3 separate regions of the Homo sapiens genome follow, and all the other regions are reported to be linked to region 2. Evidence: microRNA targets listed by miRTarBase, many of them from high-throughput screens and not tested one by one. Region 2 holds a microRNA gene; each other region holds the end of a gene's coding sequence.
Evidence for each region. The annotated mature microRNA hsa-miR-4776-3p reads CUUGCCAUCCUGGUCCACUGCAU and lies in region 2 at 4,865-4,887, shown strand. An mRNA with a match to its seed (bases 2 to 7 or 8) in the 3' UTR can be bound and repressed. Matches are read on the target gene's strand: a 7mer-m8 pairs with bases 2 to 8, a 7mer-A1 pairs with bases 2 to 7 and ends in A, and an 8mer does both.

Region 1: miRTarBase lists TRPS1 as a target of hsa-miR-4776-3p. Seed matches in the 3' UTR shown: 8mer at 2,671-2,678.
Region 3: the mRNA of AFF4 is a reported target of hsa-miR-4776-3p. Seed matches in the 3' UTR shown: 7mer-A1 at 5,163-5,169 and 7mer-m8 at 5,868-5,874.

Annotation. Positions count from the first base shown.
Region 1 is chr8:115,407,260-115,414,506 of GRCh38, forward strand. TRPS1 (transcriptional repressor GATA binding 1) reads right to left here. Exons shown (of 7, transcript NM_014112.5): 7 at 1,237-7,247. The coding sequence ends at 6,764. Among named protein-coding and RNA genes, the nearest start is that of TRPS1-AS1, 99 kb to the right of the region's middle.
Region 2 is chr2:212,923,840-212,931,147 of GRCh38, reverse strand. It overlaps MIR4776-2 (microRNA 4776-2), which reads left to right and starts at 4,812; the gene lies at 4,812-4,891. MIR4776-1 (microRNA 4776-1) reads right to left here and starts at 4,891; the gene lies at 4,812-4,891. RefSeq lists an enhancer at 1,181-2,380.
Region 3 is chr5:132,874,415-132,881,414 of GRCh38, reverse strand. It overlaps AFF4 (ALF transcription elongation factor 4), which reads left to right. Exons shown (of 21, transcript NM_014423.4): 21 at 229-6,020. The coding sequence ends at 356. LEAP2 (liver enriched antimicrobial peptide 2) reads right to left here. Exons shown (of 3, transcript NM_052971.3): 3 at 6,369-7,000. The coding sequence ends at 6,969. Among named protein-coding and RNA genes, the nearest start is that of LEAP2, 4.2 kb to the right of the region's middle.

The DNA of each region.
Region 1 (7,247 bases), not on the chromosome of region 2:
AGTTCCCAAAGTCTCTACCCAGCTGGCTGTATCCATGGAGGCTACTTGCCTATTCCTTTGTGTCCTTGTATGTTCCTTTTCTGGACCCCTGCTCCGTCCACACAGAGATGGAAGACCCAGAGGTGAGAGCAGAGTGACAATGATGACTCACTCACTTCTCTCCCCGCAAACAAGGGTAAATAGCTGATGGCTACATATTCCTCCTCTAATGGGGTTCTGACAGTCCTGGGTGAGATCATGTGTATTCTTTATCTGAAGGGTGGTCCTTGACACAAGAATCAAGTTCTACTTAAGGAAGTATATCACATTAAATGTTATTATTACACTCTTATCTAGAGAACATTGCCTCCAGCTGCAAAGCAAGGGCATTGCCATTATGAAAGCCCCTCAAAGACTCTCTGCTATTTTCAAAACATGGAAAGAAAAAGGGAAAAAAGAAAAAAAAATAATAATTAGAAGGATTTGTTCCTTAATTTGGGCTCCCAAAAATGAGAAATGAAGATTGTATAATGAGGGGAGATACTAATTATTTTAAACTCTCCAAGCAAATCTTCTGAAGCAATCAATTATTTATATACTTTATGTTCTGTCTTTTTGTATTTTTCCTTCTGGTTAAAAACATGCAGGTGAGTCTTGCCAACGTCCTTTCCTATCTGGATCTGTTCTGCCTCATTTCTCTTTCAAAGTCATCTTTCAGGGAACTTGCCCTGATTAATTTGATTTTAACCAAACAAATAAGATATTTGATATATTAATTTAAACTTTTTGAGATGATTGATTAGGAATTGCATCATGTTCACATGAGTATACCGAATTCAAAGTTAAACTTCATAAGCAGGAGTTTTTACACATCGTAACATAATCATTACCCAATACTCGACACTCAATATTTGATACTCAACTGAATGTTTTTGAAATAAACACATTTTTATGTTATCTCTCTGGAGAAAGTAGTATATATCTTTTTACACAAAATATATCAGTGAGAGAGTGTTTGTTTAAGAAAAAAAATCAAAGCACAACAAGTTGAGAGAGTCCAGGCTTTATCAATATAAGTAATAATTTTTTAGAATGGTGATTTGATTTCACCATTTCAATTCAGCAGAGCCTGTATATATATATATATATATATATATATATATATATATATATATATATATATATATTACAATGATCTGTATTTCCTATTGCTAGAAGGATGAAAGTGAATCCATATAAACCATACCAACGCCGTTATGTGTAACTGGTGGTAAAACTTTATTATTCAAGTTTAGATGTAACAGACATCTTTGCTGCCTGAAGATTGTTTGCATAAGAAATACACCAAGAACATGTTTGTGAGTAGAAATGAACATGCACTATGAAAACAAAATAAAATAAAACGAAAAAATTTCATGTGTTGTAAGAACAGAACTATTATAGCCAACATTCTAGTATTCAAATCAGGACTACAAATTGAATTCTTTTTCTTAGCAACATGAAATCATTCCATATGAAAGACATTTTCTGCTGGTGAATATTGCTGTAAGTTAAATTTTACATTGGCATTTTGAGATGTTCCCCCCTCATGCCTCCCCCAAAGTTTTCCATGTGGTTGTCAAATAGTCCGCCCTAAGGAATTTGGCGTTTATTATTGTGATATTTGCCTTATTGGTAGCCATTAAGAAACTATGATTTTATCAGCCTAGTAATAGTTTTGCATCTTCATAGTCAACACTATTGGCTGCCTAGTTGATATTTACAGCTCGTCTTTAAGAAAAATGACCCCAACCTTTCCTGGCCTTTGGGAACTGACAGTTTAAATAACCCCCTTGGCCACATAATAATACTTGGCACTCCTATGGTGCCTTTCAACCAAGGATCTCAAAGTGCTTTACAAACAAGTACTACATTACCATTATTATTATTAATAATATTATTAATACATATATTTTTCAATTTTACAGCTGAGGAACCTGAGGCACAAAAAGAAAAAGTGATATGCTGCAGTTTATATGTTGGGAAAAAAAAAAAAAAAAAAAACAGGGGAAAACCAGAATTGAGTTTTGGGACTCTATGCTCTAGAAGGACAATTTTCTCTGATAAAAGCTAAACATTATTTCCACGGTAAAGTTATTCCTGCTTTTCTCCGGTGTAGGACAGAGTGAAGCTTACAGCTCTCCCTTTCCTTTCAAGAGAACACATGAATGTACATTGTCTAGTTTCTCACGTGTGGATTACTCTTGAATTTCACATTTTCTTCATGTGACATACTTGACATACTTCTGCCCTAGCATATTCCAGAAGTTCTAATTACTGCAATTAACTGGGATGCTTTCTAAGCAACTGCAGCACTATCAGGAACATGTGAGCCCACTGTCTATGAAACAGTACTGAAAAACCAAAAGGAAGTGCTCTGCAAAGAATCCATGCCTCTGCCCTTGGCCGTCTTTCTTTGGGAAAATAACAATGCCCTCCAAAGTCCCGACGGGCGTCCTTCTATCTTCTTCTCATTTGCAGTTGCCTGCTGATAGAATTCCACCTAACAGTACCTACCTTTGATTAGAATATTTAGTTTGATACTCAGGTTGCATTTCAATTCCTCAATTTTCTCTTGTGCCTTGGACAGTCAGCAAGCTTTCACCTTACTGGCTCACCAAAGACGACTTGATCTTTTTTTCTTTTTTTTTTTTTGCCATGGCTCTCAAACCAAAGACAGTAGCTAAAGTTGACCTCCTCTCAACTTAAGGCAAAAGGCTGGCATACAGCACAGAAGCAGACCACCAGCTTCTTTACTCCACATTTCCACCACTGGATGGCAGATATTCCCCCTCTAGAAATGCATTAATTTTATTTACTAAACAGGGCAGCAGTTCACAGGTCTCAAGACCGGTCACTTTGTGATGTTTTGCAGCCACACAACAGGAGGCTAATAATTATTTTAATAGCCATACTGAGACTCTTCAGTTTATTAAGAAAAATGTATTTCCTCAGGCATTTTAAAATATATATACATTTAATATTTTTGGAGCTGTATTTGCATTGGATCATAATAGATTATGTGCACATGTGCAATTATAAACATAATGTGCTACCACAGGCTTCAACAAAGAGCTGTTAAAGATACTTTTTTCCCTTCTCATTAATATTACCTTAGAAAAGAATCCCCATGCTTGTTTTATAAAAATCTACCTTCACTAAAACAGAACAGTTTAGAACAGAACATCACTATCTTAAAAGTTGATTAAAAAAAATCTCAATATGTCATGTAGAGAGAATTGGGCATACTCTTTTCCTTTTGAACTACAGAGTTATCAATTAGAGCTCTGTCCTTTTCTCATATACTTGGAGTCATGTAGTGTCTCTCTCAATCCACAACGTTCTGAGATGGGTTGGCTCTTTATGATTTTTCTATCCCAAACAACAGAATGAATACAGAGGTGAGTGATGAGAGAAAGAGTGAGAAAAGGAAGAATGAGAACGCATGAGCTGGTCCTGGCCTAAAGTTTGATCCAAAGCTCAATTTAGAATATAGACAAATAATTTTAAAATATTTTCAGTTTTTAAATGGCACACAATTTTAGCTGGCACATCATTTTCATCACAGGGGAAGCCTTTTCCAAGAGAGAAAATTCCTAAATCATCATGAAATTCCTCATTAAAAAAAGTTCCGTACCATAATAGCTCGTTTAAAATCACAATTTAAGATAAAATAATTCAGAAATCTTAAATTAAAAAAATAAATTTTATAATATATCTTGAGAGATGGAATAAAGGCTTTAATATGTCAAAAAAGGAGTGTTTAGTGTTATAATAAATTTTTGTCTCTTTCAAAAAAGCCCAACCTCTTCTCCACCAAAATATGTATAATAATGAAAGCAAAAAATGAAAATAAAATTATCAATAATAAAGAAGTATGGAATAAGATCTATCGTGTCAACGCTATCCAAAAATATTCTACTAAAAAGTAGACTGACCATAAATATTCCAAGAATAGTGATATGTATTTTCCAATGCTAGTCGTTACTACTATGTCTGTCTGAGAAAAAAAAAAAATTGAATGAAAATAAAAAGGCATACATGCCAAAAATAAAGAACCTATTTGTGTCCGACACACTAGAGAAATTGCTTAATGAGTAGTTTTGCCCAAAAAGTAATACTTGTCATATTGCCCAAGTTAACCAAACTTCTGGTGTTTTGCTGATTTAAGCAGTCCACATAGATAATGTTGCTTAAGGATTGCCACGATGCATTCTGTTATTCTTTTTACTAAGAAAATTAAATATTGTTGTTTGGGGGAATCTCCTCTCTTTTTTAGATCTTTAATTGTCACCTCTCAAGTCTGGCTATACATTTTGAGATGCATCCATCAAAATTCCTAAGGAAGATAAATTACATCACATAATTTGAATGTCAAAGCTCCTCATTCCACTTCTTTATTTCAGTTTATGTGAATATTAGAGCTACGCGACAGGTGAGATCAGAATAAGGCCCGTTAACAATGAAACTGAAGCAGAGGACTTAGTCCTGATTTCTGTCTCTTGCTTTCTCTTTTCTCTTTTTTTAATATGCAAACAAAAAAATGCAAAAATGAAAATGACAACACAACATCAGAAAGACATTTTTTTAACTTCATTCGCTACAACAGTCACGAACTGGTTGAACTCTACCTGCCATCCAACTTTAAGAAACGAAGACCCGGCACTGTGAAAAAGAAACAAAACCCAAACAAAACAATGATACAAAGCAACTGCGAATTAATGTAAAAATGGAGTGCAAATGCGACTACAGAATGCAAAAAAAAATCAGCGTTGCAGATTCCAGCAACACTTATCAAAATAATTTCTGAAATGTTTCATATGAAACATAGACAAAGCAATAAAAAGAGGATATATGTTTATCATCTTAAGCATAACAATGTGAGTTAAGAGCTTAAAAATTAAAAAAAAAAAAGTACTTGGAATGAATAAGTGCTACCCTTTTTTTCCTAAGTAGGCATAAAAATATTTTCATTTCCTTCTTGTTTTCCATACCATTATAGCAAGAACTTTCATTTGTTTCATGTTACCGTTTACAACTTTAATGCACACACACACACACAAAAGGATATCTACTGCAATAGAAATAGTTGCTTCATTACCTTGTTTGCTACATTTGCAAATGTAAACAGCTAGGCAGAGCCAGAACTGACTCTAATGCATGATGGAATATCTTTGTTGCATACGTACACTGTAGAAAATAATTATTCAATATGTCAGGCACCATTATTTGAAATGTAATACATTAATATTTACTAGAAAAATAAGTTTTTTTTTTCCTATTTGTTCTCCCAACTTCTTTAATGAAATAAGTTAATCTGACAGTGCATCCAGTAGCTTGTAATATCTTCTACATCTCCGTGGCAAAAAATAAACTACTGGTTGGGACAATATAATGCAAATTATTAAAGTCAGTCCTTGTACATACATCCTTGTAGCAAGCATTGAGGCTCGACTAACAGCACCTTTAACCAATTATTTAATGTTCAGTTATTTAGCCCTATTTCCCTGAGCAGTTATGCTGAGGAGCTTTCCCTTCATGGATAGTTTTTACAAAGCCTTAAGTATTAAAAGTTCTATGAGGACATACTTCTAAGAATCCTATTTAATGCTACTTAACTAAATCTGTATACATTTAATGAAGGGATTGGCTGGTACATATACCAACTGTCAGTCTGTGGTAACGTAACCTTAGACGCTGCCTGACCACAAAGTTTGGAAATTATATTTAACCAAAAGAAAATAAATAAATACAGCAGGTTACCTTGTGAAGAAATGCCATGTGTTCTAAACAAATTAAACCCACGGTCTGACATTTGTATCCATCTATGCTTTTGAATTGAGGGGATTCCTTTAGTTATAATGTGCCAAGTGAGATTAGTAACCAACAGGAGGCTTAGAAAAGCAAATCCATACTGGTTCATCACACACAAGAAAGAAATACCTGGCTAAAATGAAATCACTACAGAAGCATCGAGGACATTGTTTTTTAAAATGGGTACATGTGTGGACAAAATGAATCTAAACCGCAAACAAAAGGACTACTGAGTATTTGAACATCTAAAGGACAAAAATATCAGAGAGGGTGTGCATGTGTATGTACAGGCAGGGCTGGGTAAAAACAGCGTGCCACCATCTGTCATGTTGCTTGCTGCACTCTAACCAAGCCTAACCACAGCTCGCATTTCTAGGTCAAAATCTGAAACATGGCCAATGAGAGAAGACTAAATTGAGAGGGCGCCATTTTTCTTTCATTGCCCTGGACCTTCAATTTCTCCTCCTCTGCCTAGGGTTTCATGATCATTATAAATTTAGGCAACAATTTATGGGTTTTGGAACAAATGGTCCAATGGCCAGTCCAGTACTGCTTTAGTATAATAATATGTAAACCCTTTCAAATTCTAGACAGTTTTGGTCTCTTTCTTTATAAATATATTAATTCTAGTCTGGTGATATCTCTTATGGATTATTTCCCCAGTACATATTAGCCAAGATGGTTTTGACTTAACAGGTTTTAAAAAGTGATTGTTTACCATCTTCCATTCTTTCTCATTGACCATTTATCTCACTTTTTAATCTTGGTAACCTACTCATCAAAAGAAAGAATAACAAAAGAAGGGAATTTCATGTTGGATAAGGCAGGCTCTATGAAGTATTTTTTTAATAGGTCTTCATAAGACATTACAAGCTATTGAATTCCCATCAAGAAAACCTATTTCTATTTAATTGTGCTAAGTGCTAAGGTTTTACTCTTTAGGTTTTCCATTTTTTTCCACTTGTGCATTGTTCCTATGCAGGCCCCTCTGGATATGTGTTGTGAAGTCATATTTGTCCGTGCAAAGATGCTGGCATATGCTGCACTGGAAAGGTCCACTGTCACCATGGCAACTCATATGCAAAGCATACATCACTTCATCCAGAAAGACAATGCCACAGTGCACACATTTTGTTGAAAGTTCATCTTGAGTACTTCTATCAACTTTCTCTGTTTTTACTACATTCAAGGGACCTTCATTTTTTACATTTGGTGGTGCCTTCGTTTTCTCCTTGGAGGCACCGTTTGCAGTTGGCCCAGGTCTGGAATGCTTGATCGCCAAATCTAGAGGAATGTCATTGTCTGATCCAACAGCTGAAAAATGAGGAGGCAGATTGAAGGTGGGATAAGGCACATAGTTTTGGCAAGGATTTGGTAGGCCAGGCACGTGACTCAAGTAGTGCGGATTCCCAGGA
Region 2 (7,308 bases):
ACATAATAAGAGATCTGGGGTAGTCTCAGCTGAGTTAGTATGTTGGCTCTAGGAGAGGCAGTCCCCACACCTGGCCTGGTAACTGTCACTCCTCAGTGAATGGCTGGATCTATGTTCAATTGATCTAATCAATTCAAACCTCAAGCTGCTAACCATTTCAACTCCAAGTGGCCAGATAATTGAAAACTAAGTGAATTTTACTGAATGGTCTAAAAAAAAAATGCTTTCATTCTTTAGAGTATATCTTTAGGACATACATTTAGCCTAACCCAGAAATACAGCTTATCTATTTTTAGTACCTGGAAAGAGAGCTTTCAACAACCTCTCACTGACTCTAACAACATACTAGAAGACAGACTTTGAAAAATTTCAAGTAGAAAAGAGTTAAATTTCCCCACCCCCACCCCCATGCGGTGATGATAACTCAGAATGATAAGAGTTTAGAAGAAATGAAGAATAAAAGAGATAACTCTTTTGTTTTTACTATGTGTAGTTACTTGTATCTATTATGACATGGAGGTTAAATTCTGGTAATTTTTGTTTTCATCTAGAAGAGTTGATCATACACTGAAAATGTTCTATTTTTTTTAAGAACATTCTCAGGAAAGGTTTGATCTCATTTAGATGTAAAAGCATTTAAGATTTTCAGTAAAAATGAAAGGACATTGTACTATACCAGTTAATGCGTTTTCTTTGCAAGCAACAGACAGAAACTGGCCAGCTTAAAGAAAAGTGGGATTTAGTGGAAGACTGTGGAGCAGCTTTCAATACCTAAGAAATAGAAGCACAGCCAGACCTCCAGGGAGATAGATGCAGAGCAGTGGTGGGGATCTGGGTGAAGAAATAGATACAATCTCTTTGGGAAGATATAATAAAAATAAAAAATAAAAAACTCAGCTCCAACCATGTTCTGTCCTTGGGCCAGATTCCTGGGACTTCTATCTGATCGGTCTTGGCAAGTGAGAGTAGGGATGGGGAGGAAGTGCCAACTCGCCCCTTTGCACTTTGATCCATAGTTTGACAGTTCCATGAAGATGGTTCATAATGGCGATGGGCAGATCCCCAGAAAATCAGAGGGACACTCTCAAAACAAGGGGAGGGGATACAGGACTGGCAAAAAACAACAAATGGTCACCACAGACATTTTTGTTCTATCAAGGGAAAAAAAGTTTTCTCTCCAAGTTAGTCCATCTGATCTAGTGTTGCTGACATCTTTCTGCATACCTGCATCAGGGGTTCATATACTACCCAGCTTTAATGAAAGGCCATGGCACACTTTATTAATGAAACATTAGTAACAATTTTAGAAGTTGTAGCTGTTCATTGTAAGTCATTTTGCAATTTTACAATGAGTTATTTAATAGAAAGGCAGCATATTTTAAGTAGATACTACCTTGCTCATCTCACTTCTTAGGATGATCACATAAACACCATTTTTTTGTATATAAAAGCATCTAATTTATATTATGTGATCCATGCACAACATTAACATCAGACATTGTGAAAAATTCATGTTCTTTTTTACCTTATGAAATGAAAGATGTTTTATGTTTTGCTTCACGGGATGTTGAATCCATTCAATTTTTACTTTATTTAATTCACTAATGCTCAATTATTATTTTAATCATAACCTGAGTTTGCCTTACCTTATTTTCTCCGTAGTATTCAGTGATGTGGAGAGAGGTAAAGAAGATGTCAGATGTTAAATATAATTAATGTTAAAAACAGATCTGATGAATCAGGGTGTTACTTCTGAAGAGAGTGACTCAACAAAGACTTGCCGGTCATAATTACTAAAAATTAGTCATTCTGTGAGATCTTTTTGCTGATACTAATAGATGAAACACCTTTGAGGGAAACCCTTTTGAAAGTGCTGCAATGTGACCTCAGAGAAACATGCCTTTCCAGACATTATACTAGTTATCAATTCATTCAAGAAGATGTGAGCAAAGTTTTCTTAGAATTTAAATATCACTGACAAGTGTATTTATGAACACACTTCTTTTCCTAGCTAAGTTCTGGGTAAGTGATCTTTGCTCTGTACTTTGCATTCCATGAATTACTTAAGACTAAAGACTTAACCTCTGTAAATCTCAATTTTCCGGTCTGCATGATGGGGACAATATTAGTGCCTACCCCTTAGGGCTAGATTGAGTATTAACTGAAGCAAAGCATGTCAAACTTAGCATAGTACTGGACACATACCAGAAACAAGTTAATATTAGTTAATCTAATTCTTATGAAACAACTTTGCAATGGTTTGAAAATTCCACTGATTTTCCCAGCATATTTGGGAAGTCTCTTTAATTTCATCACACCAGTGGATTTCATCTGCTTTCCAGTTTATGTTGCAACTCCTCTTCCCTAGGACTGTCAAGTTCCTTTTCCAAGTTATCTTTAGTGTGCAATCGGCTAGATCCTTCCTTCTCCGCTTTTCGTGAGGGAATGAACAGGCACATACCCCTCATGGCCAGGCCTCAAAGTGCCAAGAAGAGAGGCCAATTCCCTTGACATTTCTCCGTGTTCCTCAGGGCCATCTGCTTCCCTTTTCTGCCTCATCACCTTTAGAAAAATCCTCTTTTGTTCTCTCGGTTGCCAATGAAGACTGTTGTCACAGTTTGCCAGAAGATGTACTGGCATGCCCAGTGATAATGGACTCCATAGATAGGACTTGGAGTCCTCACGAATGAAATTCCCACTTACCTGGACAAAGTAATAACAGGAGAGATGGCCTCTCAAAGAATACTTTGAAAAATAATAAATTCTAGAGAATTGTATATTCTTAGCATATGATACATCTCATATAAAAGAAAACACTGAGATATTCCTATGGACCTTTTTTCTATTAATACATTATTTGAACTATGTCTTTTTATAGTATTTATTTCCTTAAGATCTTAGACATAAACCTAAGTTTGCAGGGAAATACTCATGTCTGAAAGGAGATGTTCTTAAATTGACATTTTACATATATCAGTTGTCACAACTTAAGATCCCACCTTTACTCAATAGTGCTTAAGGGGTCATGGAGGAAGATTTGATTGATTGTTTTTTATGTATACAAGGGGCAGGCCGGGTGCAGTGGCTCACGCCTGTAATCCTAGCACTTTGAGAGGCTGAAGCAGGTGGATTGCCTGAGCTCAGGAGTTCAAGACCAGCCTGGGCAGCATGGTGAAACCCCATTTCTACTTAGATACAAAAAAAACCAGCCAGGCATGATGGCTCCCGCCTGTAGTCCTAGTCCAGCTACTCGAGAGGCTGAGGCAGGAGAATTGTTTAAACTGGGAGGCAGAGGTTGTAGTGAGCCGAGATCGTACCACTGCACTTCAGCCTGGATGACAGAGTGAGTCTCTGTCTCCAAAAAAAGACAGAGTGAGACTCTGTCTCCAAAAAATGAAAGTATACAAAGGACAGTTGTTTTACCCAGAAAGGAAGAAATAAGAAAGTCAATTATTAGAAATTTGTTTAACTGGCATGTGTTGAGTTCCTATACCTTATTAGATACATTTGAACATTCTTTCATTAAGTTCTTAAAAAATATGAATTAGGTATTATTTTCATCTCCCATCTTACAGATAAGGAAACTAAGATTTAGAGAGTATAGGTCACTTGCCCAAGGTCACGGACTACTGGGAAGCAGGGACATGAATTGAATCAAACTCTTTTCAAATCTAAATTCAGTGCACTTAATTTCTGTGTCATGCCATCACACTTTCTCTCCATGAAAGCTAATTTCTCTTTTAACATTAGGTTTTATAGGTAGTTCTACTAATTATGTTTGTGAAGTTTTGTTTTCTTTTCCCTTCACAAGGGCTGGACACAGATCAGCATTCTCATGTTATGAATGATTTAGCTTCGGATTACTCTTCTGCAAATGGAGGGAGGAGGCAAACCTCAAATTAAAGGCAGGGTTGGAATATAAAAGTCTCAGCTCCTCAAGAGTCCAGAAAAACCTCCTCCCAAGAGTGCTGTGGCCTCTTGGCGCCTCTCCAGGCCCAGCCTGCCTGCAGGACTTGCTTGCTCCATCTTGCCGGTTCTCAACGGAGAACTCTTTGTTTTGGACCCTGTTCTTGTATTCTGCTCAGTGGACTTGAAAATTGGAAGTTTCCTTGCTTCCTGGTCCTTCCTGTGCCTGGGAAACAGACTTGGAATTCTTCTTTTCTTCTCTTCATTCAGCAAAAAGACAACCCCACCAGTTACCATTCCTTGTATTAGTTCTTGGAACCCAGCCTGGGCCAACAGTTAGGCCCCCTGAGAAAAGAAGCCTAACTTCATTTGCCTAGTCCTTCCCTCAATAGATTAAGAAATGAAGAGAAAAAAACCTTCTTAACATATACTACATAATACTAATATTTACTTTAAAAAAAAAATAAAGGCTTAACCCCTGCATTTTCATCACTTGAGAAAATTGATATAAGCTAATATTTTCAATAATTTAAAGAAAATAAACCATTTCTTTCCTGCTCCCCTCCCCTTCTGAATATTCGGCATAAATAGTTGCTTGGGTAGAATAAATTCTCACTATTCATTGGTTTGAATGCTTGTGTATATCCCAAGGGTATACACAATGACCTCTACACACATGACCTCTGTTTTACATAGTCAACTTTTATTTTGCTGAGGCAGAAATAATGCATGCAGCAAAGACTGCCAGCTGTTTACCAAAATCCCTTCTCCTCTTCTTCCTGAGCACACAGCTAGACTATACTTCCCAGTCTCCATTGCAATTCTGTGTGGCCACATACTAGAGCTCTTGCACTGCTGTGTTTTTGCATCCCCTTCTACCTTCTGGCTTCCTGAGATGGAGCAGACTATATGCAGTGGACCAGGATGGCAAGGGCTCTACTGTCCTTTCAGGAGAGCCCTTGCCATCCTGGTCCACTGCATATAGCCGAGCTCCCACTGACCTGGAACCCTCATCCTGGACTGTTGTCCAAAAGAGAGATAGATGTGTTTTTCCCTCAAACATGAGAAGCTGAATTTGGCGGTCTATTTGTTACGATATCATAGCCTGTCCTAACTGAAACAGGGCACATGTAGTATGTAGCACAAGTTTCTTAGCTAGTGAGAGTGCTTAGCAGAAGCTCAGTGCCTGCCCTTCACCAAGATTTGAGGTTTCCTACTCATGGAGTGTCATCAGTAACTCTTGCCAAGTGATAAATCTTTTGAATATTGGTGGAATATGATAACACAAAGTAAACTAACCCCTAAATGTTGGTAGCAAAAGTAAAATACAATTGAGTGTGTCTTAGAGGGCAAAGGTTCTTGGCTAAAAGGTGGTTGTTTTCTAGAGTTTAACAATAAAATACCAAACTCATATTAGAAATAGGAATAATTTTACCATATGCTCCACATATAGAAAGAATAAAAAACTCAATTCTGGAACTGTTTCACCAAATGCTTCAACCAGAATTTTAAAAATAAATATATAAATAACTATGGTCCTGAATTTATAATATTAATGATATGTAGGAATAATTTACATTTTTTGATTTAACTCACAACATTTCAGGTAGAAAATTATATGGTATATATATGGAAATTTAATGATTTACACACACCCACACTTACATATATACCGACATACAAAGTTATCACCTTATGATATATTCCTTCTAAATATTATTTGTTTGATCCAAACTCTAGGATGAATTTACCTTCTTAATTCTCTAAAACTATGATATTAGACCACATATTTTTGCATCTTAAATTGTAAAATTTCAGAACATAGAGAAAAGAAGAAAAGAGATATAAATGATATTTATTCAAGACTATTGAACTCATGTGGAAAAATAGTCCCCCGAGGACGTCAGGTCCTAATCCTTAGAATCTGTAAATACTACCTGATACAGAAAAAAGGTTTCTGTCTGTAGGAACCTAAGAAAAGACATTTTTAAATTAAAAACAATTAAAACATTAAAAATTTAAGGTCTTTATAGGTATGATTAAGTTAAGGATATTGTGATGAAGAGGTTATCACAGCTTATTAGAATGGGCCCTAGATGCAGTCACGTATATCCTTATGAGAGAGAGGCAGAGGGAGAGCTGACAACGAGGAGAAGGCAATGTGATCAGGGAGGCAGATGGGAGTGATGCAGCCACAAGCCAAGAAGTGCTGGCAGTCCCATGAGCAGGAAGAGGAAAGGCCAGATTCTCTCTTAGAGTTCCCAGAGGGAGCATGGCCTGGCTAACTCCTGGATGTAGGCCTAGTGAAACTGATTTTGGAGTTTTGTCCCCTAGAACTGTGAGAGGATAAGTTTATGTGGTTTTAAGCCATTGAGTTTGTGGTGATTTGTTATAGCAGCCACAGGAAACTAATCCAATTCCATTTTCTAACAGCTGAGTTCAACTTTGCTAAGTTTATATCTGTGATATTTTATCCTAAGTCTTTGGGGACCTAAGTTTGTTTTCCTTTTCCTTGGCCTGGAAAAGACAAATGTCCCACCCATTGTATTACATGTTGTTGAATGTCTTTAGTGAGCTCAAGAGAGGGAACATCTCTCTTCTCCAGCTGAGTCTGAGTCATTGAAAAACAGAGTAAGATAGATAGAGAGGAAATTATCAATTTTATCATTGTTAAAGTTGATTTTGGAGGATCGCCTTACTATCACTGAATCTCAGATTTAGAGAGACTTACCTACCTTATTTCCAACATTAGACAATGTACTCTAAAATGTAGGGTCTGAAATAGCAGAGCAGAAAGTATGCTTTCTCTATGCACATAGCTCTCAAGAGAATGAGGAGGTAAAGGGACTCAATAACATTAAATGATTCCCTCTTCTCCTGAGAACAGAGATGTCAGGACTGCTGTGCTAGTGGAAATCTTTTTATATGGAAAGAAGTGCTGGGAGTGGAGATGAAACATTTCCTATGGTTCCATCTCCTTATGGGCCAAGATTGACAGCTATCTGTGGGCAGAAACAGTGACACTCTAGGCTTTACAAGCCGAGTGGAAGACAACTTAAACCATAGATAGATAGTAAAGTCCTAGCTGCTCTCAGCTTAAATGTGAATTTTGGACTTGGGACAGTGTTTAAGATCCTAAATGAGTCTGCTGAAGTCTAGTTAAGTCCTGAATATCCCCCGATTCACACATGGACCTTTGTTTGTTAGCATATTCCACCCACCTCTTCTTTTAATCTGTTAAAGGAGACTTCTGCTTTATACAATCAGGTAATAAAATCTGTCTTTATAAATATACTTGTTAGTATGCATTTAGAAATCTAAGTCCTCACTCTTTTATAGACAGGCACTAATAGGTTACCTACTTTTTTCACCAAATGATTCTTACTTGAAAATTAAAAGAAC
Region 3 (7,000 bases), not on the chromosome of region 2:
CTTAATTTCTGACCATACATTCTGTTTAAAATGTTGCATGACTTAGGGAACAAATGTAACTTGAGAGACTATGGAATGATTTGCTCTAAAACATGGACAGTAAGCATTTTAGTGTAGGAGGAGGTATTTTTTGAGTTTATGAATGCTGTTTTATAATCTCTACTCATAGTTTTAAAGCAGTGATTCAAAAGAGTATATATCATTTAATGAATGTTTTTGGTTTTCTAGAATTCTTTGCTGAACTGGATAAAGTAATGGGCCCTCTCATCTTTAATGCAAGCATCATGACAGATCTAGTTCGTTATACCCGGCAGGGACTGCACTGGCTTCGCCAGGATGCCAAGTTGATATCTTGAACTGAACACATTCTCGTTGCCTCTGATTTTCTCCACAACACTGTGTCACATCACGAAGGAAAACTGCCATAACATACCACCTAGTCGACACTAAGAATGAGGAATAGTTTTCTCCTCGTTGGTTCATGTGTTGTTGTTTTTGATAATCCAAAGCGATCATGTCAGTTGGCCCTTTAATATTTCCAATGTGAAAGATTATTTAAATGCTTTTAAATCTGCAGCACATTGATAAGATGGTTTCCGTGAGCTATGATAAGATTGAAATTCCAGTTGCAATTCATAACTAATGAATTGAAATTTTATTTATTTTAATTTTTTTAAGTTCCCAGATTGGGGCTAGTTTAAGACTTAGTTATTTCTGCCTATAAATTTACTCTGTTGAATATTTAGCATAAATTTAATGTAGACATTTTTATTTATATACCTTGGGAGCTTTATTACCTAATATCTTTTTGTGGTAGCTGTTCTAAGAGTAAGAATTGGTTCGTCTAAAATAAGGACATATTCTTTCTACACCTGCTACCTGACCTGATATTTGAAATCTTAACTCCAATTTTATTATTGTGGAATTTACAGTTAGTATTAAGGATATTCTTCTACACATGAAAAAATCACTTAAATATGAGAAAATGGCATTCTACATGTATGTACTATGAAATGTGTCTGATTTGGTATGCATTATTTCAAAAACTGTGAATGTGTGTTAATAACACTACAGCAATCACACAGTGACTATAGCTTGCATTTAATGCATTACAAAAGAGGGAGGACAAACTTTCTAGAAGAAGCATTTCATGTTGAAGGGTTTCATAAAAGGACAATCCTGAACGTTACGGATTTTATTAAAACCATATGTTATTTTTTGTTGCTAATCATTTGACACTTAATCGAAACAGAATAAGTTACTGTGGAAAAAAGGATGATCCAACTCCTGAGGATTGCCGCCTGTGTGTCTTTAATTGATTATCTTTGATAGTTAGAGTTATTTTTCAGATTTTTCCCCCTCATACTGGATTGTGATGCTCTGATATGAGCATGCAATGACTGATACAGAAATAGGCTGGAGCTTCGGTGTGTGCTTTTGCTATACAGCTTACAGTTCTAATGCCTGATGTAGAGATGATGAATTTCTCCTTTTTAAACCTATCTTCTGTTTACTCCTTTTGCATTATGAAGGCCCTCTTCAATGATGTATGTTTCTGATGGAATCAGAAAATTTCACACTAGAAAAGTGTACCTAACTTGATTCAGTGTGAGCTCTTGGGACAGGGAGTGGAGCCAGGGGTAGAGCTTAAAGAAGCTGGCTCTGTAAGAGTTGTATATCAAAGTACCTTTTGCTACAAGGTGCATATAGAAGTCTAAGATAAGAAATGTACCCTCTATACTTTATTTTTCATGCCCCTATCATGTTTGGTGTGCCTTAAATCTTACCTTTAAATGAAGACTCTATGGATTGTTTACAAATGAAGTTTTACACTAGGACCAGATCGTCCATACATGATTGGTCTTCTACAATAATAATGTTCAATTCTTTCATTTTAAATCTTTCTTTAGGGTCATATAAAGATTAGTTCTTTCAGAAAAGCTATTGCTTTGGTACATGACTTAGTCTAACCAGTTGGGTAATGCTGCTTTGAAAAATAGTTTGTCCCTCTCCCCATTCCAAAAATGAATCCATTCAGTCAGAAAAAAAGATTATCCTACTATTTGTAGATGATTGCTAAGGCTTGAAATAGGAAAGGGGAAAGAAGGGATAGAAAAGTTTCAAGTCCAGTAGTGCAGTGAATCCTTTGTGTTTGAGACTTTTTTACACTTATTTCTGAAGTTAGTGAACTTTCATTGTCCCTGTGGCCTCATATTTATAGAGCTTCTTAACTGTTTTGTACCTCAGATTGTTTTTAGATGTCATTGAAGATTGAGATGTACAAATTATGTTGAATTTAACCTGTTTCTCTTGGAGAAATTGCCTCTGATATCTTTCTAACTTAATCTTAGTGTGTTCTAGGAACAGTTTTCCATAAGAGGACAACTTCTCAATGATCATGATAGTTATTTAGTAAGAAATAATGGTTGTTAATCAAATACATGTTATGTCTTGTCCTTCTCTGATTTTTCTGACTTGGATTCCTTAATTTGCAGTGATGTCTTAGAAATGGAAAAAGTATCCTCTGGGCTTTCAGACTTTCAGCAACAACAGCCAGTGGGATACCTCTGAGTTCTTGTGTTCTAGTCTCTTGTATGTCCTGAAAGGCAGCAGGAGCATTTTTGGGGTCACACTGATATTTTGTTAAAGCAGAGTTTCCTGCATGGTTTATGGTGCTGCTCTAATATTTTCTCTTTAAAACTGTGTCAATTTTTGGAGAATGAATTTTTCAACCTTTTCATTGTGGAGGATTTTTCCCACAAGGTAGTAATGGGCAATGGATCAAAATCCTATCATAAATGATTGAATTTTCAATGTCATAGTGTGTGGAAATACTACTCCCTTTCCTCCATGTCTATCTTCTTAGATGTTCTGTCTTTGTCATCATCTGCTCCAGCACATACTTTGGACTCCTTTACAGGTGACCTTCCCCCCTCCCTCCTCAATAGGTGTCCTCAGTGTTTTCTAAGCATTTAAAACTGAATTTGACAAGTGGCTAAAAACTTAGTCTGAGACTTGTACTTAGTATATGGTTAATTATAGAAACAACAACTATTTTAAACAGTTACTCTGTTGACTGCTCTTTATGACTACACTTGTATGCCAGGAGGCAGCAGCCTATACACCATTAGACTCTTTACAAGCAACCAACGAACCAATTGCAGTGGTTGCAGTTGTCACAGTAGTCTTGCCTGGGCCAGACTGGGCTGGGCTGTGGGAAGCATTCCCCTTCAGGGGAGTTTCCACAGCTCAGCCCAGGCTCCAGTCTGGCTAGAGAGCATCCAGCCCATTCCTTGCCTCAGTGCCACCTTTTTCTGGGCAAGTAGCCAAGAAGTGACTTTATATGCAGTGAGTACTTCAGATAAACTTACAGCTACAGCTGCCGAAGAGTGGAGAAGGTTGACCACCATTTATTTAATTCTCTAGTGTAAAAACAATTGAGAGCAGTGTGCGTGAGCCCACAGACACCTGTGTTTCTGGGAGCTCTGGCAGTGGCGGATTCATAGGCACTTGGGCTGCACTTTGAATGACACACTTGGCTTTATTAGATTCACTAGTTTTTAAAAAATTGTTGTTCGTTTCTTTTCATTAAAGGTTTAATCAGACAGATCAGACAGCATAATTTTGTATTTAATGACAGAAACGTTGGTACATTTCTTCATGAATGAGCTTGCATTCTGAAGCAAGAGCCTACAAAAGGCACTTGTTATAAATGAAAGTTCTGGCTCTAGAGGCCAGTACTCTGGAGTTTCAGAGCAGCCAGTGATTGTTCCAGTCAGTGATGCCTAGTTATATAGAGGAGGAGTACACTGTGCACTCTTCTAGGTGTAAGGGTATGCAACTTTGGATCTTAAAATTCTGTACACATACACACTTTATATATATGTATGTATGTATGAAAACATGAAATTAGTTTGTCAAATATGTGTGTGTTTAGTATTTTAGCTTAGTGCAACTATTTCCACATTATTTATTAAATTGATCTAAGACACTTTCTTGTTGACACCTTGAATATTAATGTTCAAGGGTGCAATGTGTATTCCTTTAGATTGTTAAAGCTTAATTACTATGATTTGTAGTAAATTAACTTTTAAAATGTATTTGAGCCCTTCTGTAGTGTCGTAGGGCTCTTACAGGGTGGGAAAGATTTTAATTTTCCAGTTGCTAATTGAACAGTATGGCCTCATTATATATTTTGATTTATAGGAGTTTGTGTCTGGGTCCCAGGAACATCTACTGGGGATGACTGTTAGGCAGCTTGTGATGATGTTTTTTAAAAAACCTAAGTAACTTGGGGAGACAGAGCATTTCAAACCCATATAGACACCTATCATACCTGTATATCCCCTAATACATGGAACATAAATTTCATTTCAGCTTTATGCATTAATGTATTGAAGAGGCAGGCTTTTTTTCCAGTAATAATACTGTACATCTAAGGTTGCTATTCAGTAAAACTAATAGAAGAGATAATTATTGAATACCTTGGAATATGTAGTGAGAAGAGGCCAAATTTTTCATGTTTGTGAGCATGTCTTTCAGATACTCGCTAATGGAGAAATTCACTTTAGACCTCTAGACCCCAAAACCAAGTTAGCAAGTGACAAAAAGTAAATTATTAATAGTCTGTAAAGTGGATGCTGGTCTTACAAAGCTCCTATTCACATGAACCCTATGGTTAATTAGAAAGAACTTGCTGTCTCCAGAAAAGGGAATGGAAATAATAACTATGTATCTTCTTTTCATGTAATTTGGTCACAGAATAAGGTATTCAAGTTAAGTCTAATCCAAGTCTTAGAGATCTTTAAGTATCCTAAAATAGCAGCCTAAGTAGTCATCATGTAAAGAAGTTGACTTTCAGGAATGTCAGCATTGACCTCTCCTTGCCACTGTTACTCAGCTAAACATAACTTGCCATTCTTAAAAATAAAAAAGCTCCCACCCAGAAACTCTAGTGATACTCAGTTTTGACCTCTTACTGCTTCCATGTGGGACTTCTTTTCAGCTTTTAACCATTGGAATTTTCTACCTGCTATGTTCCTCTCTGGAAAATATCAATTTGGAAATGCTGCCTTTCAAATCAATGCCATGATCATCCATATTGTTGAGTTTGTTGTTGGTGTTCCAGAAGTGTCCCCATTTTACAACTTTATGCACACACCTGGCAAATCATTAACATGAGCATTCAACAGTACTGGGATGGGTGGGGTGGGGGTAGGGGGCTCACCAACAGAACTGGCCAGTTGACATTGCCTGAAAAGGCACCACCTTTAAGGGCCAGTTGTGGGGTTGGTAAGCACAGTTATGAAAATTTCTATCTAGCCTCCGTTTTGAATGGTTTTAAGAAATTTTGTATATGGAGGATGGAAATGCTTATATATTTATTGAAAATCCTTTTATTTGAAATTAAAATTATTTGGTATATAATTGTTTGATATTTGGGGAGGGTTTTGGAGGGGAGATAATGTCACTGATAAATTAAAAGCCTGTTGATTTTGCAGAAAGGTACTGTTAGTGACTGATAAGGATGCCTTTGTTTTGTACATGAACCAAATCTTTGTTTTACATTTCTTTTATCCAAAATATTTAGGCATCTGACATTTTCAACCAGAATTTCAATTATATACTGTGATTTTTATTTGTTGCAATACATTACAATTTCAGAGGTACTTTGGGGCTCAAAAGCTAGGATTTCTAAGTCAGTATGTGCATTTCACACGATAAAGCTGTTAATGGTGAGCAAAGTATTATATACTAACTAGATTTTTCCACATCTGTATAGTATATTATATGTATTTTGTGGTATTGAGAGTATAGAAAGTTTAGAGTGTCAAACATGCGTTTAATGTGTATTTTTAAACAAATTTATGGCAATTAAAATATTTGGAGACAAGGGTATCACATTTCAATTTGTAAAGATCTTTTTAACTCTACTGTGTCATTAAGATGCTTTGTACAATGCCAAACCATAGTTGGAGAAACTAAGTTTAATAAATATCAAATAGATTTTCTGTATTAAAGTTACTGAACACTGTACTCTTTATATTTCTTCAACTCTGAGCCCTTTTCATGCAATTCCTGTTTTGTGTCTTAAGGTCCGTTACTACTCTTTAAAAGTCTGTTCCCACCAGCTGAGGTCTCATTTTCTGATTACAGAAATTCTGAACTTGCTGGCCATGGGTCCTTGTGCATATGTCAAAATTCACCTTGTCCCAACAGAAATCTTAAATCTCTTTTGGTGCTTTTGGTGGCTTGGGCTTTCATTGCTTTATTAAACTAGATTTTTCTCTCTGTTCTGCCTTATCTTCAGACAGCCATAGACAAACCTGGGTGCTTCATTAGATGGCAAGTGCTTGACCATCTTTTTTTTTTTTTTTTTTTTTTGAGACAGAGTCTCTCTATGTCACCCAGGCTGGGGTGCAGTGGCATGATCTTGGCTCACTGCAACCTCCACCTCCCAGGTTCAAGTGATTCTCCTGCCTCAGCCTCCCAAGCTTGACCACCTTTGACACCTCCCTGAAGAGTATGGAGTGAAGGGATCCAGGGCCACAGCTTAGGAACTTGCTGAAGTTGATTACGTAGCTATTGATTATGTAGCTCTCACTACACTTTCCAGATTGAGAAGTTAACACATTATTGGGCAATGCTGTTTTTTTCTTTAGTATACAAAATGAATCCTTCTTTCCCTCAAAAGCTTGAATTCCAGACTGCTAAAATTTCAATTTGAGACATTTAATAGTATCCATAGAAAAATAAACTCTAAATTGACAAGTTTAGTTATGCTTATCCATATATCAACATTCTAAGAAGAAATGGAGACCAATTTAAAGCGTACATCTGCCTTTAAATATTAAAAATACAAGATTGCTTCACTTGGGTGTCTCCAGCCAAAATGCAGTTAATCAATATTCCATAGAACGGAGCATTGTCGGAGGTGACTGCTGTCCTTTCTTTCCCTGGTATGTACATCATTCCTGGGCCACACTTAAGGAACAGCGTC